7 separate regions of the Homo sapiens genome follow, and all the other regions are reported to be linked to region 1. The links are microRNA targets in miRTarBase. Many come from high-throughput screens and were not tested one by one. Region 1 holds a microRNA gene; each other region holds the end of a gene's coding sequence.
Evidence for each region. The annotated mature microRNA hsa-miR-130b-5p reads ACUCUUUCCCUGUUGCACUAC and lies in region 1 at 1,370-1,390, opposite strand. An mRNA with a match to its seed (bases 2 to 7 or 8) in the 3' UTR can be bound and repressed. Matches are read on the target gene's strand: a 7mer-m8 pairs with bases 2 to 8, a 7mer-A1 pairs with bases 2 to 7 and ends in A, and an 8mer does both.

Region 1 (4,069 bases):
TGCAGTGAGCCAAGATCGTGCCACTGCACTCCAGCCTGGGCGACAGAGCAAGACTCCATCTAAAAAAAAAAAAATTTGATTTAACAAGCTGTTCTGGAGGAATATTCAATGCTGTGAAGCCCAGAGAAGGCTTCCATTGGGAGGGAGCCAGTGAGCAGAGCCCTGAGTTCAGTCTCCCCGCAGCAAGAGCAGGAGACAGCTGCATGGGGGTCTCCAGCCAGTGGGTACAGAATCTGTACAGGACTGAGGGGTGGCCACCTCCAGCCATGGCCCCTGGTGCCTAGAGGAAGGGAGGATGGATCTAAGTCAGATGACCCTAGGATCAAGGAACCCCAAGGGATCAGGACTAGGAAGCCAAGGAGCATGTGTCATTGCCCCTGTTCCTCCCACGGGTGCCAGGGCTTCTCTCCCCAGGGTAGGGGTAAAGCAGTTTCCCAATGCGCCCAGCTAGGGATGAGGGGAACTCCCAAAAGCCCATCTGGAAACCTAGTCCTCCTCTAAAGAAGATTTGAATGACTGTGACTGGGCACGTAGAAACCTTTTGCACCGTGTCAGGTCTTGATGGTAGAGGTGGTCATCCAAGCATGCCTGGGGTCAGGCTCCTTGGAAGTTCAGCTCCAACCCTGTATTCCAGCTGGGACGGTTGGAATGTTAGACACCTCAGTCCCTCCTGCAGGTTCAGGGCACACCTCTCTGTAAGAGAACAAACTGGCATGGTTGGTAGACATCATTTGCAGGCTTTGTATCCCAAGTCCACCCATCCATCTCACATAGTACCACTCCAGCTGAGTCCACTCAACTGATCAGTCAACTGGTCAGTCCATAGTACCACTCCAGCTGACGTCCTGGGGTGAAGGCTGCCTCCTGAAAGGCCTGCCTTACCCCCTTACCCAACTGCCACCCAGAAGAACATTCTCTCCAGAGCCTGGCCCTGTTCAAGCTTCCAGCAAGGACTGGGCCCAAGCCAGGCCTAGAATGATCTTCCATGCAAAAGACTGGGCGTGTATTTCCCCTAAGACCCTGACCAGGCCTGGAGTTCCAGTCTTACCCCAGGGACCCAATGTGGAAAGACCTTCAAACAAGAGCTTTTCAGAAGCTGGGGAGGTCTGCTCCTGCACCTGTCCAGCCATGACAGGATGGAGAGTTTAGGGATGATTCTCCAGCTCTGCACCCACCTGATCCTCTGATGGAGGGTCCAGTCCAGCTTCACATCTGTGCCTAATCAGTGGAAACACTTACCCTCTGGGCACCTCAACCTTCTCAACTGGAAAGTGGAGTGAGGCAGCAAGCTCCCTTTCCCCCTCCCAGGGTAGCAGGCTGGACCTGACCGATGCCCTTTCATCATTGCACTGCTTCCCAGCGGCCTATAGTAGTGCAACAGGGAAAGAGTGTCGGGCAGGCCTGCCAGTGCCTCCCCCAGGGTGGTCTGCAGGGATCTGAGACCTGGAATGCAGGCTGGCTGGGGCGGGGCCTCTGCCCGGGGGGAAAGGGTGCCCTCTGACCCCAGAGGCCCAGGCCTGTCTAGAATCTCAAGTTTCCATGGAGAAGGGAGCGAATTGGGTAGGGGGGAGGGGAGGGCCTGCAAGCCCAAGGGGCCCTGCCTGGGGAGTGGGAGGTGAGGGTTATAGGGAGGGAGATCCCCAAGGCTGGTCCCAGATGCTTTGACAATATCATTGCACTGCTTCTCAGAGCACAGTAGTGCAACCTCGTCAGAGCACCTGCGGCCAGCAGGGGGGACCCCACCACCCCCAATACACGCAGGGCGGGAAGCTCAACCATGGATGGGTGGGTGGGGCAGAGCCCCCGTCCAGTCCATCCGGGCAGGGAAGGAGACCGCAGCGGGGTGCGTCCCTGGGGTCTTCAGAACCCAGGACACCCAGGCCTTTCCCAGAACGCTCCGGATTGAGGTGGAGGAGAAACCCCAGACTAGGGGGTTGTTCCAATCCCGGAGCAGGAGCTGACGGGCCACGCAGGGGAGGGGGCGCACACACAAAGACGAACCCGCACTCAGCCGCAGTCCAAAGCCGGCTAGCGCCCGGAGCGGGGTGGGTACAGCCCGACGACCCTGCGCCCTGACTCGGCCCGCGGCTCCAGGAGAAAAAGGGCGGCCCCACCCCGGGACGACGCGCCCCTTCTAGCTGACGACTCCATCCCTGGCCCCTTGCCCTGCACTAGATACACTCTGGATTCTTTTCTAACATATTCTTCTGCCTGGAGGCCCAGAGTGGAGCAGAGGATGGGGGCTCCCCGCCCTTCTAGAGTTCCCTGCTCCAAAGAGGGCCCCCGGGATCCCGGCCGCGCCCCTCCGCCTGACCCGCCGAGTAGGGCCGCCCAGCCCAGCCCAGGATCCCCTCCTCAGACACAGCTGACTCACGCAGACATCCCTTCCGCCCAGGGCCCGGTCAGGACGCGGAGGGTTAGACGGAAGAGGATCCCGGCCATCGTCTGCCCCCGGGTCCCCGTCCAGACGACCCTGCACCTCGTGGCGGCCCCTCGCCTGCCGGCTCCATCTTTAACCCGCTGACAGTCGGAGGGGCCGGGCCCCCGACTCCTTAGCATAGCGCTGCGCTCATTGGCCGGCGCTGGCGCGGGGATTCGCCTCCTGCATGCCTGTTGGCTGAGACGGGAGAGATTTCAAAATAGCCTCCGGGTTCCGATTGGCCCGGCGCCGGCCGAGTCTCGGGCTCCGTGGTTTTAACAATGAGTTCTACAAACACTTTTTCCCCATTCATAACTTATCAAAAGGAACTTTGCCCGCCTTTTCTCAGCTCCAATCTCTGCGAGTTTTCTAGCGACACCGACAAGAGCGCTTGGAAGCCCGGTGAGGGGCGCCAGGCGCGAGCCCACAGTGGGGGAGGCCGAGACCCTGTGGAAATTCCCGAACCCCCGCCAAGCCTGCTGTGAACGCGGCCGCGGGCTGCTTTGTTATGCATGCTGAGGTTGCTCTCTGCGCCTCCTGGATGGGATATTTGGACGTGGTGGGCTTACAAACTGGGGTAGCCCCCCTCCCAACTCAACCACCCCGGATCGCCCGGCAGGACGCGAGTGAGGCTTTCCTGAAAACCCCCGGGTATGGCTGGGCTATGGAGACCGGGTCCTGGGCCCCGTGGTCTTTTGGATCTGTGGGAGATATGGGGAACGGAAGTGTAAGCTTTGGTTTCTTCGTGATTGTGATCCACTTTGCGGAGAAGCATTCATTAAGCGCCTACCCTTCGCTGATGACTAGGAAGTATATTGATCACCGGGCTGTTGAACGGCTCCTAGAGGGAAGGGAGGAGCTGTGCTTAGACAACTGTGCCCCTGCAACCCCTCCTGCTTTATTATCGGTCCAATGGCTGAGAGCAAATGTTTTTGAGGCAGGCAGAGGTGGTTTTGAATCTTTATGAACCCCTGTTGCCTTCTTGCAAAATTGAGATGGCAATCAAACCTGCCCCATAGGGCTGGCTGTTGCCAGCAGCAAATGAGATGCTGTGTAAATTGTTGGCCCAGCACCTGGCATTTAGTAAGTGTTCACTGAAAGTGAGTTCTGCTGCCACTACAGTTTTTATTTTTGGCCTTGTCCTGCATTCTGCCTGGAACAATCTTATCTGCTCCCACAGCATGGGCTTTGGTTGCCCAGGGATTCCCACTTGTGCACTGTTGGGTTCCTCTTGGTCAACACTCCTCACCTCACTGCTTACCTATGTGTGGTAACGGAGGTGGGGGAATAGACAGAGAGGGAGGAGTGGGCTTTGACAGCCCATAGGAGCTGGGGCTGGACCAGAGGAGTGCCCCCTTGGATTTGCAGGGTGATATGGTTTGGCTCTGTGTCCCCAGCCTAATCTCATCTAGAATTGTAATCCCCAAGTGTCAAGGGAGGGACCTGGTGGGAGGTGATTGGATCATGGGGGCACTTTCCCCCATGCTGTTCTCGTAATAGTGAAGGAGTTCTCACAAGATCTGATGGTTTTAAAAGTGGCAGTTTCCCAGCCTGGCCAACATGGTGAAACGCTGTCTCTACTAAAAATACAAAAATTAGCCAGGTGTGGTGGTGTACGCCTGTAGTCCCAGCTACTCAGGAGACTGAGGC
Region 2 (4,069 bases), not on the chromosome of region 1:
CCAGCGCCCCCCAGGAGTTGAACCCAGCCGTGACAGCCGCCTTGCTGCAACTTTTATCCCAGCCTGAAGCAGAGCCTCCTGGCCACCTGCCACATGAGCACCAGGCCTTGAGACCAATGGAGTACTCCACCCGACCCCGTCCAAACAGGACTTATGGAAACACTGATGGGCCTGAAACAGGGTTCAGTGCCATTGACACTGATGAACGAAACTCTGGTCCAGCCTTGACAGAATCCTTGGTCCAGACCCTGGTGAAGAACAGGACCTTCTCAGGCTCTCTGAGCCACCTTGGGGAGTCCAGCAGTTACCAGGGCACAGGGTCAGTGCAGTTTCCAGGGGACCAGGACCTCCGTTTTGCCAGGGTCCCCTTAGCGTTACACCCGGTGGTCGGGCAACCATTCCTGAAGGCTGAGGGAAGCAGCAATTCTGTGGTACATGCAGAGACCAAATTGCAAAACTATGGGGAGCTGGGGCCAGGAACCACTGGGGCCAGCAGCTCAGGAGCAGGCCTTCACTGGGGGGGCCCAACTCAGTCTTCTGCTTATGGAAAACTCTATCGGGGGCCTACAAGAGTCCCACCAAGAGGGGGAAGAGGGAGAGGAGTTCCTTACTAACCCAGAGACTTCAGTGTCCTGAAAGATTCCTTTCCTATCCATCCTTCCATCCAGTTCTCTGAATCTTTAATGAAATCATTTGCCAGAGCGAGGTAATCATCTGCATTTGGCTACTGCAAAGCTGTCCGTTGTATTCCTTGCTCACTTGCTACTAGCAGGCGACTTACGAAATAATGATGTTGGCACCAGTTCCCCCTGGATGGGCTATAGCCAGAACATTTACTTCAACTCTACCTTAGTAGATACAAGTAGAGAATATGGAGAGGATCATTACATTGAAAAGTAAATGTTTTATTAGTTCATTGCCTGCACTTACTGATCGGAAGAGAGAAAGAACAGTTTCAGTATTGAGATGGCTCAGGAGAGGCTCTTTGATTTTTAAAGTTTTGGGGTGGGGGATTGTGTGTGGTTTCTTTCTTTTGAATTTTAATTTAGGTGTTTTGGGTTTTTTTCCTTTAAAGAGAATAGTGTTCACAAAATTTGAGCTGCTCTTTGGCTTTTGCTATAAGGGAAACAGAGTGGCCTGGCTGATTTGAATAAATGTTTCTTTCCTCTCCACCATCTCACATTTTGCTTTTAAGTGAACACTTTTTCCCCATTGAGCATCTTGAACATACTTTTTTTCCAAATAAATTACTCATCCTTAAAGTTTACTCCACTTTGACAAAAGATACGCCCTTCTCCCTGCACATAAAGCAGGTTGTAGAACGTGGCATTCTTGGGCAAGTAGGTAGACTTTACCCAGTCTCTTTCCTTTTTTGCTGATGTGTGCTCTCTCTCTCTCTTTCTCTCTCTCTCTCTCTCTCTCTCTCTCTCTCTCTCTCTCTGTCTCGCTTGCTCGCTCTCGCTGTTTCTCTCTCTTTGAGGCATTTGTTTGGAAAAAATCGTTGAGATGCCCAAGAACCTGGGATAATTCTTTACTTTTTTTGAAATAAAGGAAAGGAAATTCAGACTCTTACATTGTTCTCTGTAACTCTTCAATTCTAAAATGTTTTGTTTTTTAAACCATGTTCTGATGGGGAAGTTGATTTGTAAGTGTGGACAGCTTGGACATTGCTGCTGAGCTGTGGTTAGAGATGATGCCTCCATTCCTAGAGGGCTAATAACAGCATTTAGCATATTGTTTACACATATATTTTTATGTCAAAAAAAAAACAAAAACCTTTCAAACAGAGCATTGTGATATTGTCAAAGAGAAAAACAAATCCTGAAGATACATGGAAATGTAACCTAGTTTAGGGTGGGTATTTTTCTGAAGATACATCAATACCTGACCTTTTTTAAAAAAATAATTTTAAAACAGCATACTGTGAGGAAGAACAGTATTGACATACCCACATCCCAGCATGTGTACCCTGCCAGTTCTTTTAGGGATTTTTCCTCCAAAGAGATTTGGATTTGGTTTTGGTAAAAGGGGTTAAATTGTGCTTCCAGGCAAGAACTTTGCCTTATCATAAACAGGAAATGAAAAAGGGAAGGGCTGTCAGGATGGGATAATTTGGGAGGCTTCTCATTCTGGCTTCTATTTCTATGTGAGTACCAGCATATAGAGTGTTTTAAAAACAGATACATGTCATATAATTTATCTGCACAGACTTAGACCTTCAGGAAACATAGGTTAAGCCCCCTTTTACAAAGAAAAAGTAAACATACTTCAGCATCTTGGAGGGTAGTTTTCAAAACTCAAGTTTCATGTTTCAATGCCAAGTTCTTATTTTAAAAAATAAAATCTACTTATAAGAGAAAGGTGCATTACTTAAAAAAAAAAAACTTTAAAGAAATGAAAGAAGAACCCTCTTCAGATACTTACTTGAAGACTGTTTTCCCCTGTTAATGAGATATAGCTAGATATCGGTGTGTGTATTTCTTTATTATTCTCTGGTTTTTGATCTGGCCTTGCCTCCAGGGCCAAACACTGATTTAGAAAGAGAGCCTTCTAGCTATTTTGGCATTGATGGCTTTTTATACCAGTGTGTCCAGTTAGATTTACTAGGCTTACTGACATGCTATTGGTAAATCGCATTAAAGTTCATCTGAACCTTCTGTCTGTTGACTTCTTAGTCCTCAGACATGGGCCTTTGTGTTTTAGAATATTTGAATTTGAGTTATTGGGCCCCACTCCCTGTTTTTTATTAAAGAACGTGAGCCTGGGATACTTTCAGAAGTATCTGTTCAATGAAAAAAAGTTGGTTTCCCATCAAATATGAATAAAATTCTCTATATATTTCATTGTATTTTGGTTATCAGCAGTCATCAATAATGTTTTTCCCTCCCCTCTCCCACCTCTTATTTTTAATTATGCCAAATATCCTAAATAATATACTTAAGCCTCCATTCCCTCATCCCTACTAGGGAAGGGGGTGAGTGTATGTGTGAGTGTATGTGTATGTATGATCCCATCTCACCCCCACCCCCATTTTGGGAGTCTTTTAAAATGAAAACAAAGTTTGGTAGTTTTGACTATTTCTAAAAGCAGAGGAGAAAAAAAAACTTATTTAAATATCCTGGAATCTGTATGGAGGAAGAAAAGGTATTTGTTAATTTTTCAGTTACGTTATCTATAAACATGATGGAAGTAAAGGTTTGGCAGAATTTCACCTTGACTATTTGAAAATTACAGACCCAATTAATTCCATTCAAAAGTGGTTTTCGTTTTGTTTTAATTATTGTACAATGAGAGATATTGTCTATTAAATACATTATTTTGAACAGATGAGAAATCTGATTCTGTTCATGAGTGGGAGGCAAAACTGGTTTGACCGTGATCATTTTTGTGGTTTTGAAAACAAATATACTTGACCCAGTTTCCTTAGTTTTTTCTTCAACTGTCCATAGGAACGATAAGTATTTGAAAGCAACATCAAATCTATACGTTTAAAGCAGGGCAGTTAGCACAAATTTGCAAGTAGAACTTCTATTAGCTTATGCCATAGACATCACCCAACCACTTGTATGTGTGTGTGTATATATAATATGCATATATAGTTACCGTGCTAAAATGGTTACCAGCAGGTTTTGAGAGAGAATGCTGCATCAGAAAAGTGTCAGTTGCCACCTCATTCTCCCTGATTTAGGTTCCTGACACTGATTCCTTTCTCTCTCGTTTTTGACCCCCATTGGGTGTATCTTGTCTATGTACAGATATTTTGTAATATATTAAATTTTTTTCTTTCAGTTTATAAAAATGGAAAGTGGAGATTGGAAAATTAAATATTTCCTGTTACTATACCACTTTTGCTCCATTGCATTTACTTCTTAATCTGTACCCCCTGAGCATATCTAATCATGTATAAAGGACGTTTTTCCTCCACTTTATCTTAGGGGTTCTCTGTCTCAGAATCATTATAGACTCATTAACTCCCCCTCCCAGCAAAAGGTTATCAGGATTTGAAGAGGTGCTTGAAAACGCTAGACTAGGAACTAGAGAATAAATGAGTTGGGAAAAACCATGAAAT
Region 3 (4,060 bases), not on the chromosome of region 1:
AGTGTAACTATCACAGCCAACCTAGACAAACATGTTTGAGTATCGTAATGCTTACAAAATGATATTTCCTATAAAAAAAAGAAAACCCCAAATGGACAATGGCACAAACATGGTAGAAGTTAACGTTTCACTCTAAAAACCCCAAATGGGTATTTTTGATCAGGGAACTCTTTCTAAGTGGCGATTTGTGAACCCAGGGTCCTTCCAGCTAGTGCCTCTACTGCCCTCAAGTGGCATCTCCAGTTGCCATGTCTGTGTGCACTGGGCAGGCAAAAGGAGCTTGGCAGATTGTGTGTCAGTTATAGCACGTCTGGACCGTCACTTCTGTTTGCTTTCATGGGCTGGAGCTCCATGCATGGCCACAGCTAACCACAAGGGAGCCAGGAAACTGGCTATTTATCCAGGAAGCAGAGGAGATACTGAACAGCTTGCAGGTCTCTGCCACAATGTCTATTGATAACGTATGTCAGATGTCACAGAAGAAAATATGGTAGTTCTTAATGAGAATGCCATAGATTATTCTTAAAATTCATAGATGTATACAAATGTTAACAATCTTAATGGTATTTTAGGGATGCGGAAAAGGCAAATTTGTATCCATAAGTATGGTGTCATTTTTTTGTCTTTTAGGAATATGTGTTTTTAACCTTATTTTAAATTATTTTAATTTGTAGGGCCCTTTAAAAGGACGCAGAGTTGAAGGAATTCAATATGAAGACATTTCTAAACTTGCCTGAGTTTGAAAATTTGTTAACAATACATTAAAATCTTAAAGCATCAAATTGGTGTTCGCCAAGGCATTATGAGACTCTACTGTGTTAGGGTATATTCTTTTGTATAAAACAAACAGGTTTTTGAAAATATTACTGTATAGTTGTTCAGCTAAACTTTGAGAAGAATTTAATTATGTCTCATGAGGTATCAAACTATGTAATTTTGTCCTTGTTATTTTTGTTTCCTTTGTAATTTACTTGATGAGTTTATATCTTCATTAAAGAATGTTATTATAAAGTGTTTTATCTATGACAATTTAGAATCATGTAATTGGAGGAAATCCTTCATACACTCTATATTTTCAGTAGTAGAGTAGTAAAGTTGAACTCTAAGTGTGACTAAATTTTAAATGTCAAACTATAAATATAGAAGCAGCTTTATTGTGGTAATAATTCATATACCATACAGTTCACTCATTTAAAATATACATACAATTCAGTGGTTTTTAGTATTTTTGCAGAATTGTGCAGCCATCACCACTGTCTGATTTTAAAACACTTTCATACCCCAAAATGAAACCCTTTAATAGTCAATCGCTATTTTTCCCCTCTGCCCTAGCCCTAGACAGCCACTAATGTACTTTCTGTCTCTATGGATTTGCCCTTTCTGGACATTTCTTATAAATGGAATCATATAATATGTGATCTTTTATGACTGGCTTCTTACACTTAGCATCATGTTTTCAAGGTTTATCCATGCAGTAGCATGTAGGCGTGCTTCATTTGTTTTTATGGCTGCTTAATATTCCACTGTATGGATGTACCGTATTTTGTTTGTCCATTCATCAGCTGATAAACATTTAGATTGTTTCTACTTTTTGGCTATTGTGAATAATGCTGCCATGATCACCCATTTACAGGATTTTATGTGAACAGAAGCTTTCGCTTCTGCCAAACTCTTCCAGAGCAGCTATACCATTTTACAGTCCTACCAGCAATGTTGAACTATAGTTTTATTTGTTTTTAATTTTTTTACTTTTAGAGACATGGTCTCACTGTGTTGCCCAGGCTGCTGTCAAACTCCTGGGCTCAAGTGATCCTCCTGCCTCAGCCTCCCAAAGTGCTAGGATTGCAGGTGTGAGCCACAGCACCCTGCCTAACCATACAGTTTGAAATAAGTAGGGCAGTGTATTATTAGGGAATGCAAAAGACAGGAAACCCACATTTGCCTGTGCCAAAGGAAAAACGAAGGGATATTTGTAGTGCACATGACTGAAAGGAGCAGACGCTAGCTTCCAGGGCAGCGGGACCGGGTGTGAACAGCCTTCCCTGGGCTTCCGCTCTGTCTCTGGCTCCTGTGCTGGCTCTCTACATTTACATTCTTGAGCACTCTAGGTTTACATCTTACCCTTCAGCAGCACCGGGAAGAGAGAGATGATCTATCTTTTCTTTTTCTTTTTTTTTTTTTTTCTGACACAGAGTCTCACTCTGTCACCCAGGCTGATTGCAGTAGTGCAATCTCGGCTCACTGCAACCTCCACCTCCCGGGTTCAAGCCATTCTCCTGCCTCAGCCTCCTGAGTAGCTGGGACTACAGGCATGCGCCACCACGCCCAGCTAATTTTTGTAATTTTAGAAGAGATGAGGTTTCACCATGTTGGCCAGGATGGTCTCGATCTCTTGACCTTATGATCTGCCCGCCTCAGCCTCCCAAAGTGCTGGGATTACAGGCATGAGCCACTACGCCTCTTTTTTTTTGTTCTGTTTTTTGAGATAGGGTCTTGCTCTGTCATCCAGCCTGGAGTGCAGTGGCACAATCATGGCTCACTGCAGCCTCGTCCTCCTGGGCTTAGGTCATTGATTCTCCCACCTCAGCCTCCCGAGTAGCTGGGACTACAGGCATGCACTACCATGCCTGGCTAATTTTTTTGATTTTTAGTAGAGATGAGGTCTTGCTATGTTGCCCAGGCTGGTCTCAAACTCTTGAGCTCAAGCAATCCTCCTGCCTCGGCCTTCTAAAATGTTGTGATTACAGGTGTGAGCTACCACGCCTTGCCTGAGTTGATCTTCTACAAGAGTTCAAACAAAAAACAGACCATACCAGGATGATCACTTCAAACATGAGGATGGGTATAAGCTGACGTCAGACACAGGTATGGTGCCAAACCCTGGGATCTCTCTCTTTAACTGAGAGTCAGGGAGGGCTGATTGCTTCTATTCTCAGAAGATGGGAGAACGTATGCTGTTAGCAGAAATGTAAGAGGCAGTAAAGAAATACTAATAGGATGATGGCAGAAGCTTTACAGAAAATGTTCCTCAGGGATGAATTAAGGTTTTTCCAAAGTAACCTGACAGCACATTATGGAAAGCAACTGGGTTTTGGGTGTGGGCAGTCTTTAGATCAAATTCTGGCAGTTCTGTTCATTGGCTTTGTAATATTAGAATGTTAATGTTCTTGAATTGCAATGTTTTTAATGTATAAATTGTCAAAATGTTTTTCAGCAGGGTTGATGGGAGACCTACAGAAAATACATATAAATCATCAGACATGAAGTCCAGCACATAGTAGGTATTGAATAAATGGCAGTGAGTGGTCATGTCCAGAAATGAAGCCAAGAAGTTGAGCCTGGACTACTAAGAATCTGGTCTGAAGAATTTCAAAAAGGAGAATGGTTCTCCCTGATAACAAATAGTGATGAGTAAAACCAGACAAATTACATATGCCTCCCCCAAGTATGTACGTTTGGAATCAACTTGGTGGTTTTCTTCAGAGAAAAAATGTTTCATGTCTGCCTCCCACATTTAATTCTCCAACGTCTTTCTGAAATTATTTCAGAATGAAATGAGGCAGCATACTTGAGGTTAAATTCAATAAAAAATATCTGAAGCATAAAAATACGATTATAGACTTCACAGTAGTTTTTTCCCTCTGAGTCTGTAGAACTTGATAGAGTTTATGCTAAGCAAAATGACTGCAGATAACTAACAACAGGTCTCATATTAGACTTTGATTTTTGAAGTATCATAAGCTATTTTTCTTTATTTCAAACATAGACTTTACTTTTTAGAGCAGTCTCTGTGGGTTTTGACAAATGTATAATGACATGCATCTGCCACTGTAGTATCACACAGAACAGTTTCACTGCCCTAGAAGTTTCCTGTGTTCTGTCTGTTCCCTGTCTCCCCCCAAATCCCTGCTGACCGCTGATCTTTTTACTGTCTCCCTAGTTTTGTCTCCATCGAAGGTCATATAGTTGGAGTCACACAGGGTGTAGCTTTTTCAGATTGGCTTCTTTCACCTGGTAGAACATATGCATGTAAGGTTCCTCCATGTTGTTTTGGTTAGGT
Region 4 (4,069 bases), not on the chromosome of region 1:
CTAACATGTAAGGATTACTTAACCTTTTGTGGTTCTGTAGCATCTCTCTTTACAAGGCAAATATTCTAACCTTTCACTTTAAAGTTGTTTCATCCTTCCCTTATCTTGCAGACTATATGTCGGAAACCAAAGACCTCCACTGATCGACACAGCTTGAGCCTCGATGACATCAGACTTTACCAGAAAGACTTCCTGCGCATTGCAGGTCTGTGTCAGGACACTGCTCAGAGTTACACCTTTGGATGTGGCCATGAACTGGATGAGGAAGGCCTCTATTGCAACAGTTGCTTGGCCCAGCAGTGCATCAACATCCAAGATGCTTTTCCAGTCAAAAGAACCAGCAAATACTTTTCTCTGGATCTCACTCATGATGAAGTTCCAGAGTTTGTTGTGTAAAGTCCGTCTGTGTGCAGCTGTACAGGCAGCTTACTGTTTGCTAGAGGATGCGAAAGTCATAAGTTCTTTACATATTACTTGTGCCATATCTTCTTCACCCTAAACATAGCTCTTTCTTTATAATATTTGTGATGATGGAAACAAAAGCCTTGGAACAATTGCACTTTAAGTATTACACAGAAGTAAAAGAACTACAGAAAATGTACAGCAAGACAAGTGCCCGGAAGTTCACTGATCCTTCAGAAGGAAATGCGCTTTACTGATTGCAAAGCCTTCAGAATATTGGAGTGTGGTGTGTTTGCTCATCTGATGCTTTTTAGTTCAGTTACATGTAACATCACATTTTTTTATCACGTGAAAGATGTTAGATTTGTTTGCTTATAAATTTTTTACCACTCCCACATAAAATGCTCATAGTTTGGGAGAGGAAAGAGGGAAGATTCTCTCTTCTTTTAACAGAGAGATGATTGCTCTGTATACCCATTGCTTCCTCCCTGAGGCTGTCCCAAAGTGAACACTGATGGAGTGGTCAAAATCATAAGGTTGTAGCAAGCCAAAGATACGTATGTGACAGAAGCACATAAGCAATAAGCAGAAAACCAGAAGTGCATGCTGTGATGCCTGTGACTCCTTCATCCCGCTCAGTGCCATGTCCTCTTTTGTGATCTTCCAGAAAGCTCCAGGATTCATTTGAGTTCCACATCCAAGTAACAGATGAATTATATTCATGTTGTAATGCATTTTGTGGAGTTTACAAAACCAGTGTCTGTTAAAACTTTGGAAAATGTCTTAGAAAACGTTGGTGCTTGGTGATGCTTTATTTGTTTAATTATCAAGAACAAATTATGGCAATGCTAGTTTCTGCTTAACCAAAATACTCTGTGTATATATTATACATATATAAATACATGGGATTGTGTATGTCTATATGTGTTTAAAGCTTACTATGTCTTCATTTTGGCTTCCATGACTATCTTTTATACATGGAATTCCTTAAGATTGAGAATATGTCACTGAGTGAATGATACCTGCAGACAGTCAGTTGATATATGTAGAGTTCAGAATGACTGTTTTCTCATGTGCCTTTGGCCATGATTCTCAACACTGATTGTATAACAGAATTTTGGGGGGAGCTTTTAAAAAATAATGACTGAGTCTCCCACCAGACCGATTACATCATTCTCTTGTGGCGGGACCCAAGTAGAATTGCCTTTTCTTTTAAAGTTCTCCAGATGGAGCTAATATGCAACAAAGTTGAAAACCACTGATCCTGGGGGTGTCTTGTTAATTTTGAAGTAAAAGTGTACAGAAGACGTAGTGTATGAGAAAGGGCCATTTTTAAGACAGTTACCTGTTGTGCTGCTGTTACAATATATAATGAAACCAAGTCAGGGGAGTGAATTTATCAATCTTTTGATGTAAAGTAAAAACGTAGTTCACACTTCAGGAGAGAACTTCATAGCACAATGTCTTTCTATAAGATATTTTTAATGATTTAGTATTTTACAACATTTGTTTACCATATTTTGATATACCATTTTTTTCTATCTGCCCAGTTTTATTAAAAAAACTATATATTATTTTCTAAAGAAACAATCATATTTTTATACAAAATTATGTTTTCAGGTAACGAAATAGATGTAGGGTACAGTGGAACATAAGCAGTGTTACCCCTGGCTGGGAGTCAGTATTATACAACAAATGGTGAGCTGGAACATGCCCTGTCTGTGCTGTCCCTCCTGTGCTGGGTCGCGGATGTGTAGGCAACATTGCCTTATCACGCTAGGTTCACCTGACACTTTAAAAGGAAAAAAAGTTCCATAGAGTTCTGTGGTCACAAAATTGTTTTGCTTTTATCAAATACTTTAATAGAACCAAAGTTGCAGATATTGGAATGTATGGAAGTATCTCAGTCTCTGCATAAGAGGATTAAAGTATGAAAGGATCATTTAATGACTGTTTTACTTATAAGTCATTAAGTAATCCACCATTTCTTATGGATGATGCTTAAGCCTGGTGAGGTTTGTACTCTAAGGAGCCCAGATCATAATGCAGTGCATTTCCTTAGCCCTTAGAGTTTCTTGCAAACATTTAAAAAAAGACATATTTAAGAAAGAAAGATAAAGAAAAAACATATTTAATTACTGTAAACAGGTACTGCTTTATGTTTATTTTCTCTCTACTTCAACCAAAATCAGATCTTTGAGGTTTTGCTGACATTGTTGGTGGTTTTGCACATGTTCTTTCTAATTGGATTTATGAATAGTTCTATGGGTTTTCAAAGATGAATCATGCTAAGAACACTTCTGCTTTTTGATCCACTGTTTGCAGCAGAATTATATATATGTATAGGAAAAATCCACTTTGAATAATCCATGTTTTGTATTTGGAAATTGTTTTTAAAAATAAAAAGGAAAGGAAATATATAAAGCTGTTATTTATTCTGCATTTCTTACATATCTATCGCTTGTCAGTATACCCGTTTTGGTATATATTGCCTCTGCACATCTACATTTGTATATGCAACAGTGAGCTTTATATCTACATAAACTGTAAATAATCCTTTCTGTGAAAGGATCATCATATCAAGATGATACCAAAAGTATGTAAAAAGAAACCTGCATTATTTTGTAATTATTTCTTATAGATATTTCATGGTAAGATTAGCAGTCAATAAAGTTACTTTTTTGCCTTTAAATTGCCTTTTTGATTATTAGAGCTCTCAAGCGAGAAGCATTAAGGAGTGACAGTGTTTTCTTCATGTTCTTTGCTGTAATGGAGCACAGTAAAGGACAACAAGGTTCCATGTGATAGAATTCCAAGTAAAACAGTCCTGGTGGTGACGATGGTAATAACTGATGCTGAGTACTACCATGTGCCAGACCCAGTTTCACATGTATTCAGATTTCATGTGTTCAGTCATTTAATCCTCATATCCCCAGAAGGCAGGTACTATTATTATTCTTAGTTGCAGATGTGAAGGAATCAAGCTTCCAGGAGTTTGTGGTAGTCAGCCACTGTTGAGTTCAAATTATGGAGCTGAAAAAAACTCTCCTTTAAAAGGAAATATTTTAACCAAAATAAGTAACTTAAACCTGAAAACCGTCATCATTGGACTGTTGGTTTAATTATAAAATAAACAAATGGTTGCATTTAAAAGCATGCATTCACAAAGCTGAACGTGAGGGCAGCATGGCATTAAGGAAAGAGCCCAGAGTTGAGAGTCAACAGCATTCCGAAAAGCCCCAGCTCTTTTTCTGAAGGGAAATCCATTACCTTCTCTTTGCGCCACTTCTCTTGGCCAAAAAATGGAGTTAATAATTTAAAGGACTGTTTGGAGAATTAGATAAGGTAATGGTTGAGTATGCCCCTGATGACTAGGTGGGAAAAGGAGGGCTGTCAAATCTGACATTTAACTTTTGTGAAACAGAGCCATTTGGATTCACACGGTCCAAAACAAGTTTTCTAGTCAAGTGTTACGAATTTTGCAGTGTCTGATAAATTGTGATTTGGAGTCCAGGAAAGAAAATACTTGGTACCTACTATGCATCTAATAGTACAAACACCGTGTCTAATCCTCACAACCCTTCAAGGAGTTGTCTGTCACTCGCATTTCACAGCTGAGGAAACAGTTAAACTTGCCCACGACTCTACAGCTAGTGAGTGGTAAAGC
Region 5 (4,069 bases), not on the chromosome of region 1:
CATTAAGTAATACTGTAAACTTGAATTACATTTTAAAAATAAGCACCATGAACATACATTCTACATAAACTTATTTTACCTTTTAAATGACACCTTTTGGCCACATAAACATTTAAATCTGTTTTCTTTACATGTAAATAAAAATTGAGCAATATTTAACTACTACACCGAAAAATTACCAAACTTCACCTCATTGCACAATGGAAAAGCACTTAGAAAAAGCACTTGGAAAAAACAGCACACGTTATTTTTGTCTTTTTTATACATTTCGTCATTTTCTTAAATTGAGAGCAGTTAAAACATTGTCAGAGCAATTTCCTGAGTTTCCAAAGTTTCCAATTTCCAGCTCAGAAATAACCGATCTCAATATTATACATGTCTACTTTCTAAGCATACAAAACACTTGAATTCAAAAAGAAAAGACCTAAATAAAGGATGGAAACCATCCAGAAGAGCAGTATAGCTTTTCTTCTCAAAATATACTACTCAAGAGGATTTAAAGTCAAAATTTCTGCTATATAATATGTCCTATATTTAAAGGCCATAAAGTTGCAAATAGTATGGAAATACTAACCAATTGAAGAAACTGCACATTAAAAATAATGTAGAGAAATATGAAGAGCCAATAAACGTAAAAAAAAAAACACTTCCATTTCTCACATTGGAATAAAGAGATGGACAGACTGAAAATACTGTTAAGTGTCTAATATCTCCCTGGTCCAACTGGACACCCTCTGGGGTTTCCACATTAGTCCTCTTTTTCCATCTGGGAGATAATGGTAAGAGACTACTGAATGAATATAATTATTACTGAAACCTTCCATACTACAGAAGTGCTGTACTTTTAAAATATTAAGTTTACAAAGAATCATTCTAATGAGTCATGTATTAGCACAAATATACAGGTTGAGTGAGTATCCCCTACTCAAAATGCTTAGGACCAGAAGTGTTTTGGATTGCTGGGGTTTGGGGGGATATTTTAGAACATGTGCATTATATTTACTTGTTGAGTATCGCTAACCTACAAATGTAAAATGCTCTGTGAGTATTTCCTTTGAGCATCATGTCTGTGCTCGAAAAATTTCAGATTTTGAAGCATTTCAGATTTTGAATTTTCTCATTAGGGATACTCAACCTACACCAATACATGAAAATTTTTATAATCTCCAAACTATCTTTGACATACAGGATTTAGAAATGGGTAATAGAGAAAACTTTTAAAATCCCCAAACTATCTTTACTGCGGGCATACAGGATTTAGAAATGGGCAAAAAAAAGAAAGGAGGGATTACAAACTTTTCTTTCAAAATTATGTGTTGCTTAAACTATGCTAGATAGTGGGGTGGGAGGCAATTTGGAATTAAGCAGCTTCATAAAAATACATATGATGCTCAAACTTTGCCTGTATATTTATCAACAATGATTAAGATATACTATTTGATTTATCAAAATAAGGCATAATATTAACATTGATATAGTAAACAAGTAAACAATATAGCTTTTTTCATTTGACTTCTGCCCACGGAATACCACACCTCTACTTCTGACTGCTCCTTCATTAATCATAATTATAATATTGAAATAAGTCTAGCTGAAGTGCCGAAAAGTGATGATTTTTAAAACTAGGTAAGGAAATATAAAAACACAGAAAGTGAGTATGCAGCTGCACACATTCCAATTAACTCCACATTTTAGCACTGTTTTTCATACCCTTAAATCATACTAATGTATACATAGGAATATCTTATTTCATTAACAATTATAGTTTCATAGTAAGTTGTTTAAAGGAACTGCTTTATTTTTAATGTTTATTTTTAATGTATAGAACTGTTCTAGAGATTACAAAAGTGTGCTAAACTGTTGGCATTCTTTAAATAAATTATTACAAACATAAGTGTGAATAATACTTCAATACCAGTCACTAACCATTTCTAAATAATAAACATGTATTTTCATTTTTATGGAACTAAAATTCAATGATAAGCCTCCTTATTTTAAAAGCATGCAATCATGATATATAAAAAAAATGTTTTGGGGTTTTATTTTCATTGAAATGTCTGCTCTTTTGGAAAACCATTCTGTACTTTAGGATTCTTTTGGTACCAGCTCAATCCTATAATTTCTGATCCAAATTTTTTTTTAAGCTTAACAAAAAGCAACAAAACTATTTGTTAAAATTATGTATGTTGAAAATATTCTCCATCTCCAAAGGCAAATTTAAGCCATTGTCTCATATTGGAAAATTATACCTTACCACATTATAACCTCCTTTACACAGGTTTAACTTGCATACTAACAGAATTTATTAGCTAACCAAACAACAGAAGTTAATGACAGCTTCCTTTGAGAAAGTTGGCTCTTTTTCAAAATAAAAGTGAAAATATTTTAAATTGTAAGGATTCTTCTTATGATTATAACCAAAATATTTTCTCTTTTTTTTCTTTTTTTTTTTTGGAGACGGAGTCTTGCTCTGTCACCCAGGCTGAGTGCAGTGGTGTGATCTCGATCTCGGGTCACTGCAACCTCCACCTCCCAGGTTTAAGCGGTTCTCCTGCCTCAGCCTCCCAAGTAGCTGGGATTACAGGCACACGCCACCACACCCAGCTAATTTTTGTATTTTTAATAGAGACGGGGATTCACCATGTTGGCCAGGCTGGTCTTGAACTTCTGACCTCAGGCGATCCACCTACCTCGGCCTCCCAAAGTGCTGGGATTACAGGCGTGGGCCACCACACCAGGCCAATTATAAACAAAATATTTTCTATATTTGTTTAATAGAATTTTAACCTACTGCAGTTTTAAAATTACATGCCTCAAAAATAAAATATAAGTATTTAGTACTGTCTGAAATACGACTTATACAGACAGTTCTAGAAGCATTTCGATAAGGCAGCAACATCTGGAAGATATTTAACCATTTCTTTTTCTCTGAAAACCTTTCTGTCTATAGAAAGTATAAAATTACAATATAATCTCAGACCCAACTTTCTTTCCATAAAATGCACACAGAAGAACAGAACAAAAGGTAAAAGATCAAGGTCATATACAAAGCAGAAGAAAGGGCAAAAGCATGTCTTCCTTCCTGTAGGATATGGCAAAATAAAAGCATTTTATGTGTTTAGTTTTGAAAATAAAAAATATTCAAGTGTTTTTGTTAGATCTCCTTTTTTTCTTTACTACCACTACTATGTCCTTTTTCCTCTTTTAATACCACCCTTTGGGGGGCATGAATCAGGTCTCAAAGCACTTTAAATACCTCTCACAAAAGACTTTTAGGACATTACTAAATGTCATACAACAATTAATACAAAGGTAACCTTTTCTGAGAAACAATCAGAGCATTTTAAACTTTAAAACTGTAGCTGATAATTTTCTTACATATTTTGTAATCAATAAAATTTCTCTGTAATATCTTTAACAGGTAACATTTGCATTTGATTCAGTAAAAAATCAAACCTCACTTGCATTTTGAAAAACATCATAATTTTTTTGTTTCATAATTGAATATTATTTATAATAAAACACATCTTTAGGGTAGAATTGACTGAATTACTGCAAATAAAAGTAATTTTAACCTACAAACCTTCATACTTCTAATTCAAGGATGTTTATTTTACTTTAGCATGACTTTCAAGCACCCTGGTTTAATTTCAGAGAACCTGCAGAAATGAGAAAAGAGTTATTTTAAAGATGAAAATTTCAAATTAGCTAAGGAATATACCTTGTAATCAATTCCAAGTACCTACGCTTAATATAATATTTACTACCAAAGTATTGACCCTTATTAAGTCAATATCCAAGACCAACATCTAGGTTTGTGTTCCTTTTATCTACGGTCAAAACAAATACAATCTTAAAGCTGGAGGTTGCTCTTGACTTAGTATAACTTAAGATTTGTCAAAACCTGTGAGGCCTGAATTTTACCTTTATGAAAAAGAGTATGCTGTAGGAAGAATAAAGTCCTTGGTGCATCATGAAAGCACCAAGAAGAAATCTCTGATATATCAGGTAAGTCTGATTAATCTGGCCATGCAATGCTTTCAACTCTATCCGGAGAGAATTTAAAGGA
Region 6 (4,069 bases), not on the chromosome of region 1:
AGTGGGTATCAACTTACTCGACATCAGGTATTTCACACTGGTGAGAAACCCTATGAATGTAAGGAATGTGGGAAGGCTTTTAATTGTGGATCAAGCCTTGTTCAACATGAAAGAATCCATACAGGGGAGAAACCCTATGAATGTAAAGAATGTGGGAAGGCTTTTAGTCGTGGCTATCACCTTACTCAACATCAGAAAATTCATACCGGTGAGAAACCTTTCAAATGTAAGGAATGTGGGAAGGCCTTCAGTTGGGGTTCAAGCCTAGTTAAGCATGAGAGAGTCCATACTAATGAGAAGTCTTATGAATGTAAAGACTGTGGGAAGGCCTTTGGTAGTGGCTATCAACTTAGTGTTCATCAGAGATTTCATACTGGTGAGAAGCTTTATCAACGTAAGGAATTCGGGAAGACCTTTACTTGTGGCTCAAAACTTGTTCATGAGAGAACTCATAGTAATGATAAACCCTACAAATATAACGAATGTGGGGAAGCCTTTCTGTGGACAACTTACTCAAATGAGAAAATTGATACTGATGAAACCTTATGATTGAAAGTTGTAAAAGAATATTTTGTGTGTGTGTATAGACAACTTATCATAATAAGAACTCTTACTCTTGAGAAACCTTGTGAATGTAAGGGTTGTGCAAAAGCCATTCATTTCTGTTTATGGGCAATTATCTTGCTATCCAGCAATTCATACTAGTGAGAAATATTTTGAATATAATTAATATGAAAAGGCCTTTAGACTTCTGTACAGTCTTATTGGATATCAATTTATACTGATGTAAAATCATTTAAATGTAAGGAATGTGTGAAGATCTTCATTCATGACATAAGGTCTGATTAACATCAAATAATTGGTATTTGTTAAAAAGAGTTTAAATAGGAGGAATGTGGGAAGGACCTAAACTTAATTCAGTTCTTGCTGCACATCAGAGAATTCATACTGCTGTGTAATCCTATGCACATAAGGAATTTGGGAAGGCTTATAGACACAGTAAATATCTTAGAGTACATCAGAGAATTCATCCAAATGAGAAATCATTTGAATTAGAATTATAGGAAGGCCTTTAGACAAATGCTACCCAAATTATTATCCAGAGACTGGTGCAGTCATAAAATTGTCATCTGTCAATTGTGAGATAAACGTGGAAAGTGAGTAAATATTTGGAACTTTTATAGCAATTTGACATTTCCATAACATTCTGTTTTACAAAATTATCAGTCCATAAATGATTGAGAATTGAAAACAAAGTTTGTTCTTTCCCAGAAATAATTTGAGACAAGACTCACACTTTTCAAGACATGAGACAAGTGACAATTTAAATAAGAAATTCTTCACTTGCACCTCTCTGATTAGAATAGCAGAATATTCATACTATAGCAAGATTTGGCAAATGAGGGAATCAAAATTTTCTAATGCCTGTAACAGCATAAGATAATTTATACCAGATATGTTAAATGTGCAGAAGCCTTCCAACACTATTCAGTCTTTGTTAAACTTCAGTAAGTTCATCCTAGAGAGTAACTCTGTTAATGTAACAAATGTAGGAAAACCCTTATCCATGGCAAATACCATACTGTCATCACCATTTCACCTCCATACTACCTGTAGGATGGTGAGCAAAATGCTTATCTCTTCTGGACATGATGTTTCAAATGCTGATGGTAACTAATAATGCTGTTACAGAGATTAGATGGATTTAGTATGCATCATATCCTTGGAAGAGTATCTGGTATGTAGCCTATGCTTAATACATATTAGCTATTGTTCATATTGTCTTTATTATTAGTATTACTACTGGTGAATTCTTAGGAGAGGCACAACCGTTTTGAGGAATGAATTCAGAAAAGCTTCCCATAACCACTCATCCATTTGAATTTCAGATAGTTCATTCTGGATAAGATCTAGTACAGTATAAAGAATTTGAGGGGATTTTAATTCAGAGTTTATCCCTTAAGCTGAGCTAAAAAAATGAGACTTGAAAAAATCCAGACTTTTGAAGAGTTTAGGAAAGCTGTTTTATAGAATGTCACACATTAGTTTCATTCCTCATGGTGAAATTTGATATGGGCCTCTCCTTCACATTTCTCGTAACATGAAGTTGGAAATAGAGGCTTAAACATTTTTTACCAGAACACTTCATAGATGGTGATGTGTACTTCATCTTGCAATACCTCAGAAGCAGATAGTATCCATTTCCCCCAGTATCACCAGTGCCAAGTTTGATCACTTATGGTAACTACTGGAGTTGTCTGTTATAAAGATCCATTATATACCTAATAGGATTGGTCAGCCTTGATCAATGATCTTTGGAAATGTGTGATCATATGGTATGTATTTTACTTTTTTTTTTTTTTGGGACAGGATCTCTCTTTCTGTCACCAAGGCTGGAGTGCAGTGGTGTGATTTCGGCTCACTGCAACCTGCACCTCTCGGGTTCAAGTGATTCTCGTGCCTCAGCCTCCCAAGTAGCTGGATACACAGGTGTGCACCACCATACTGGCTAATTCTTGTATTTTTAGTAGAGATGGGGTTTTGCCATGTTGGTCCAGGCTGATCTTGAACTCCTGCACCTGCCTCAGCCTCCCAAAGTGTTGGGATTACAGGTGTGAGACACTGCGCCTGGCTATATTTTACTATTTGGAAATCACAATGCATCTTAAAATTGATGGCTTCTTGCAACCACTTTCAACCAGGTGCCTGTCATGATTTAGTGCTAGCATCAAGGCAGGTTAGTTATGAAGAAATAGAGTGTGTGTTTATATACTCACACAGTTAGAAATCGACCCTTTTAAAAATTATTTCTTTTTGAAAATAATGTCAGTTCCATCAGAACTAATGCATTGATAACTAAATGTCTGTGGTTCCTTGTCATAGGTCTACACCTGACCTCTCTATTTTGTGCACATAGGGGATTCGTAATATCACTGTTCAGTCAGTCATTCACCATCTAGTGATCATCATTCTACATGATTGCACTTTTTCAAAGGCATAAAAAGCCAACAGTTGCACTCTTAATAATCAACTGTAACACAAAGCAGAGTACTTTGGGAGTTTTAACAGGATATATTATTGGTAACTGGCTATTATGCCACTCCCTCTGGGTGCCACATTTGCCTGTTAACCAAGAAATGTAGACATGGTGCCTTATCCCAACATTTCTGAAATTATATCTCAAGGAATCACCAGTGCTTACTAGTACTTGACAATGAAGGAGGATTTTACAGTTAAAGAAGCTTATAAAGTAGCATCTACTAAATCCCCTCCTAAGGAACAAGCAAAAGCACCTCACCAGCTTATCAAAAGACTAAAGAGAAGTGAAAAAAAAAAAAAGACGGCCGGGCGCGGTGGCTCATGCCTGTAATCCCAGAACTTTGGGAAGCCGAGGCGGGCGGATCACGAGGTCAGGAGATCAAGACCATCCTGGCTAACACGGTGAAACCCCGTCTCTACTAAAAATAGAAAAAATTAGCCGGGCGTGGTGGCGGGCGCCTGTGGTCCCAGCTACTCGGGGAGGCTGAGGCAGGAGAATGGCGTGAACCCGGGAGGCAGAGCTTGCAGTGAGCCGAGATTGCGCCACTGCACTCCAGCCTGGGCGACAGAGCGAGACTCCGTCTCAAAAAAATAAAAATAAAAAAAGACTAAGGAGTATTCTAGTGAAGAAAATGGTTGAACTTTGTTTAAACTGGTGTATGGCAAACTTCACTGTTGAAATACTTATTCCCATGACCTATTATCTTTGTAGGTGGGTGAAATTGCATTGGGAACTGCTGCTATAACCAAAAGAGAATTTCAGTCACCATGTCTGGTTGTTAGCTATGATGGAATGGCAGCATCATGGTCTCAGTTATGAGTGAAAATCTTTGTTGTAGCTAAGTAGTGGTGCCTCCTGAGTTTTATTAAATGCCGTTTCACTATCTTTTTCTGCACTTCTATAGTATTTAATTTGTTCATGTGATAATTTATTCTGATAGATTCACTGACTTTTTCCCATTCCTGGATATTCCAGGTTAGTCATAGTATCCTTCTGATGCATTGCTTGATTTCATTTTGCCATTTTATT
Region 7 (4,069 bases), not on the chromosome of region 1:
AATAATGGATGAGGTGACTACAGGTAATTTACATTTTATTCTGTCTGCTCATCTATTTTCCAGTTTTTCTACAGTGTATACATTATTTACCAAATGTATATTTTAAGATATTTTAAAATGTTCACTCTTTGATTCAGTCATTCTACTTCTTAGAAACATCTTAAAGTAATAATACAAGAAGTATGCAAAGATTTAGCCACAGGAATGTTTATTCCAAAAACGTTTACACTACCATTAAATTAGAAAACCAAAATGCGTAAAGAGGAGTATAAAGTTGGACTCTAAAGTCATTAAAAATATTTAACAAAATGCTTACAGGGCATTCTTATGTGGGGAGAGAAAGCTTACAAAGCATTCTGTACAATATAATCCCATTTTTATAGATGCACAGAATAATCAAAAGATAAATACCATAGGTTGAGAGTGGTTAGTAGAGGGCCTGGGATTGAGGATTCAAGGCTAATGCTTTCCCCTGGGGGCTGGGGGTGTAACTGAAGTCTACACTCCCAGCCCCCATGGGCCCCAAGCACCCTCACCTGGCCCTCTGCTAAGGGGTAGGAAGGGGGCTGGGAGGAAAATGCAAGACAGGAGGAGGCAATTAAACATGATGGTGCTCAGGCCAGATTCCCTCTGAGGATATCTTCTGAACACAGTTCCAGCACGATCTGAAATGTAATTTCTGTAAAATGCTTTCATTGTTTTTAAAAAGTTAATCCAGATACTGCTGTCAGCTTTTCATAGTATTGGTTTCTGTAATGTCCTAATAGAGCAAAGGAAGGACACTCCTGAAGTTAAAAAGTTTCTACGGCAGGATTTGCAAAGACCAGAAGAAAAAGGTTACATAGCAAAAATTTTCTTCTGGTTATCTTTGGGTGTTTTTTTAAATTTTATTTTATCTGTATATTCTAATTTTCTCACAACAAATATATATTGCTTTTGCATTTTACAAATATACAGAAAATGTAATCTGGAAAAAAGTTACTTTTTCCAGTTCTAAGTTAAATAAGTGAAAGTCACTTTACTGCTTACAAAGAAATCTTTAAATTTGAACTTGGTATCCACCATCTGCAACAGATCATTCAATCTAGGGATGTTGCAGAACAACAGGGACTCCTCAAATCTCACTTTCCTTAGGAATATATTTTTCTAGCTATATTTGACTATGTCCTAATCATGTTCTATTTATTTGTATATCAGAAATAACAGTCATATCATGAAGAGCTACCTTATCTTAGGCAAGTTGCTTTTCTCCTTCCTTTCCAACTTGAAAAACACACTTCTCAGATTGCTACAAAAGGCCAACCTCTCTTTTTTTTCTTTTTTGAGACAGGGTCTCGCTTTCTCACCCAGGCTGGAGCACAGTGGTGCAATCTTGGCTCACTGTAGCCTCAGCCTCCTGGCTAAGTGATCCTCCTGCCTTAGCCTCCCAACTAGCTGGGACCACAGGTGTGTACCACCATGCCTATTTTTTTTTTTTTTAATTTTTAGAAGAGATGAGGTCTTGCTATGTTGTCCAGGCTGGTCTAAAACTCCTGACCTCAAGCAATCCTCCTGCCTTGGCCTCCCAAAGTATTGGGATTATAGGTGTGAGTCACCACACCTGGCCAACTCTCTTCCTTCTGTATGCACATTTCACCTTTAACATAACGTGTACTATCATCATTATTTTTTTGAGATAGGGTCTCACTGTGTTGCTCAGGCTGGAGTGGAATGGCACGATCTTGGCTCACTGCAACTTCCACTTCCCAGGCTCAGGCAATTCTCCTGCCCCAGCCTCCCAAGTAGCTGCGACTATAGGTGTGCCCCACTGTACTTGGCTAATTTTTTTTTTTTTTTTTTTTGTAGAGACGGTGTTTTGCCATGTTGCCCAGGCTGGTCTTGGACTCCTGAGCTCAGGTGATCTGCCTGTCTTAGCCTCCCAAAGTGCTGGGATTATAGGCATGAGCCACCACGCCTGGTCTGTATGTGCTTTTTAAAAAGCCTATCCCATACTGAATTGTGGGAACCTATGAAGTGTCTCTTAATGTCAATTAAAAGTAACAGTGGCTGCAGATATTGATTTCTGAAAGTACATGAGAATTTGTCTCTAACTATGGTTGAAACAACAAAACCAAATCTGAATCAGGTAGAGGTCTACCAGACACAAACTCTGAAATTAAACACTAATAGGACTGTTACTGGGCAGGGGGGACTCCTTTGAGTAAAAAGGTAACATACAGTTTTCCTAGGTGGCTGGTGCTCTCCCCCAACTTTCATACTGGAACAAGAGTTAGGCTCAGGTTTACATGATCCTCTACTATTCTTTTGTGAAGAATGACAACTGAGTCAGTTGGTTGAGCTTGAAGTGTTCCAGTCCTAAGGGATTCACTCTCACTTAATGTCATATATTGGTAAGGTGCCTACATGAGGTCAGTGTTTGTGGCTACATATAAAGACCAATGATGAAATGAGGAATTATTTTTTTTTCTTTTAATAAGGGATGGGGTCTTGTTATGTTGCCCATGCTGGACTCAAACTCCCAGACTCAAATTCCTGGGCTTAAGCTATTCTCCTGCATCAGCCTCCCAAATAGCTGGGACTACAGGTGCATGCCACCACACCCAGCTAGAGGCAATGATTCTTAAAGTCTCCGCTGGCTATCTAGGACTCTTATTAAATATCCTGTTACTTTAAAAAGGCCATCCAAATATATTTTCTTGAAAGAAACATTTATTTATGATCTTTATTGGTGAAATAATTTCAAACAAATCCAGAACAGGTTCTCACACTTTGAGCCTTTAGTGCAAAAACATTATGCCATGCGGGAAATAAAATGCTTATCCAGTGGAGCGCTCCCCTGATGCATTGAAATATTAGGATACTCAAGCAGAAGACGACTTATGTGACAGAAATCTGCTCATAAATCTGCTTGAAAAAGGGCATGATAAACCTCATATTAAGGTTTCTCACAACATAAATATGCTTAAGCAACTTAATTCCAACTTAATTTCAAAACACCCCAGGAATCAACTATCCCTTTAAATAAAAAAAATAATCAATTTATATTCTTCTTAAAAGAACTCCAACAATTTAAAATAAGTTCCAATTCCATATATATATATATATATATATATATATATATATATATATATATATATACACACACACGCACACACACACATTTATAACTTAGGTGCTCTTTTGCGCTATATACTTTAATTCATGCAAAAGTGATAGAGGACTGGACTTGAGGCTCTACAGAGGCCTTTCTGAGAAAGCTGTGTAGCTCCTTACTCTGGCGAAGAACAAGGGGGTGTACATCTTGTCAATCTCAAAAGCACTGACTGCAGTCTCACCAGTTGATCTGTAAAAAAAAAGCACAAAATTACTAGTATGAGGAAATTTCAATTCATTTAAAATCCTTGTGTGTTTGGGGAAGGTTATTCTATGCTTTAGCCTTTTTTATTTTTAATTCATCTTAGGAAATTCTATATAATATAGGCATATTGTAGAAAACTCGAAAAATTTAGAAATGTATACAGAAACATCACCACAATTCCAACACTCAGAGCCATATGAAGGATATTTTCTAGTGTTTCTTGAGATCAAACTTAGTAATTCTTTTTATTTCATTTAATTATTTGTATTTTCCCACATCATTATTTTTCAGAAACCATTTTTAGTGGCAGGATGATATTTCACTGTCTGCTTGTACCACAGTTTACTTAATTGGAGATTTAGGTTGTGTCTACTATTTCTCAATTAAAAATTATGTGATTTTGATGTCCTTCAGAGATTCCTAAGATAGAATTTTTAAGTCAGAAGCTATAGACATTAGGTTCTTCTTAAAATGTTTCAGAAATAACTATATTCCTAGAATATAATTTGATTATTTAATAATTGCATGATCAACAGCATAATTATAGGCAGGGGGGAGGGAAAGTAGGTGGTAAGTTATGCTACCACTGAGAGAGACAAACGAAAGCAGAGAATTCAAGTGATTTTATAAATATTACAAGGAAGTCAATGTGATAATTAGCAGCTACAAATAATGCCTCTGGTAATGTCCTTTTTTCTCCTAAATAAACAA

Region 2: miRTarBase lists CDK12 as a target of hsa-miR-130b-5p. Seed matches in the 3' UTR shown: 7mer-A1 at 1,072-1,078, 7mer-A1 at 1,805-1,811, 7mer-A1 at 1,999-2,005 and 8mer at 2,538-2,545.
Region 3: the mRNA of KIN is a reported target of hsa-miR-130b-5p. The part of its 3' UTR that is shown has no 7-base or 8-base seed match.
Region 4: the mRNA of FRMD6 is a reported target of hsa-miR-130b-5p. Seed matches in the 3' UTR shown: 7mer-m8 at 824-830.
Region 5: miRTarBase lists N4BP2 as a target of hsa-miR-130b-5p. Seed matches in the 3' UTR shown: 7mer-A1 at 2,429-2,435.
Region 6: the mRNA of ZNF283 is a reported target of hsa-miR-130b-5p. Seed matches in the 3' UTR shown: 7mer-A1 at 3,316-3,322 and 7mer-A1 at 3,789-3,795.
Region 7: miRTarBase lists FBXO9 as a target of hsa-miR-130b-5p. Seed matches in the 3' UTR shown: 7mer-A1 at 1,305-1,311.

The regions. Positions count from the first base shown.
Region 1 is chr22:21,650,637-21,654,705 of GRCh38, reverse strand. MIR130B (microRNA 130b) reads right to left here and starts at 1,402; the gene lies at 1,321-1,402. MIR301B (microRNA 301b) reads right to left here and starts at 1,725; the gene lies at 1,648-1,725. It also overlaps the pseudogene LOC107985532. RefSeq lists enhancers at 2,012-2,061, 1,598-2,269, 2,270-2,940.
Region 2 is chr17:39,530,703-39,534,771 of GRCh38, forward strand. It overlaps CDK12 (cyclin dependent kinase 12), which reads left to right. Exons shown (of 14, transcript NM_016507.4): 14 at 1-3,842. The coding sequence ends at 614. Among named protein-coding and RNA genes, the nearest start is that of CDK12, 71 kb to the left of the region's middle.
Region 3 is chr10:7,752,757-7,756,816 of GRCh38, reverse strand. It overlaps KIN (Kin17 DNA and RNA binding protein), which reads left to right. Exons shown (of 13, transcript NM_012311.4): 13 at 675-4,060. The coding sequence ends at 737. Among named protein-coding and RNA genes, the nearest start is that of KIN, 33 kb to the left of the region's middle.
Region 4 is chr14:51,727,634-51,731,702 of GRCh38, forward strand. FRMD6 (FERM domain containing 6) reads left to right here. Exons shown (of 14, transcript NM_001267046.2): 14 at 112-3,094. The coding sequence ends at 396. Among named protein-coding and RNA genes, the nearest start is that of FRMD6, 78 kb to the left of the region's middle.
Region 5 is chr4:40,153,782-40,157,850 of GRCh38, reverse strand. It overlaps N4BP2 (NEDD4 binding protein 2), which reads right to left. Exons shown (of 18, transcript NM_018177.6): 18 at 1-3,659. The coding sequence ends at 3,614. Among named protein-coding and RNA genes, the nearest start is that of RHOH, 41 kb to the left of the region's middle.
Region 6 is chr19:43,848,093-43,852,161 of GRCh38, forward strand. It overlaps ZNF283 (zinc finger protein 283), which reads left to right. Exons shown (of 7, transcript NM_181845.2): 7 at 1-3,925. The coding sequence ends at 549. Among named protein-coding and RNA genes, the nearest start is that of ZNF283, 23 kb to the left of the region's middle.
Region 7 is chr6:53,096,996-53,101,064 of GRCh38, reverse strand. It overlaps FBXO9 (F-box protein 9), which reads right to left. Exons shown (of 13, transcript NM_033480.3): 13 at 192-3,343. The coding sequence ends at 3,235. Among named protein-coding and RNA genes, the nearest start is that of FBXO9, 34 kb to the right of the region's middle.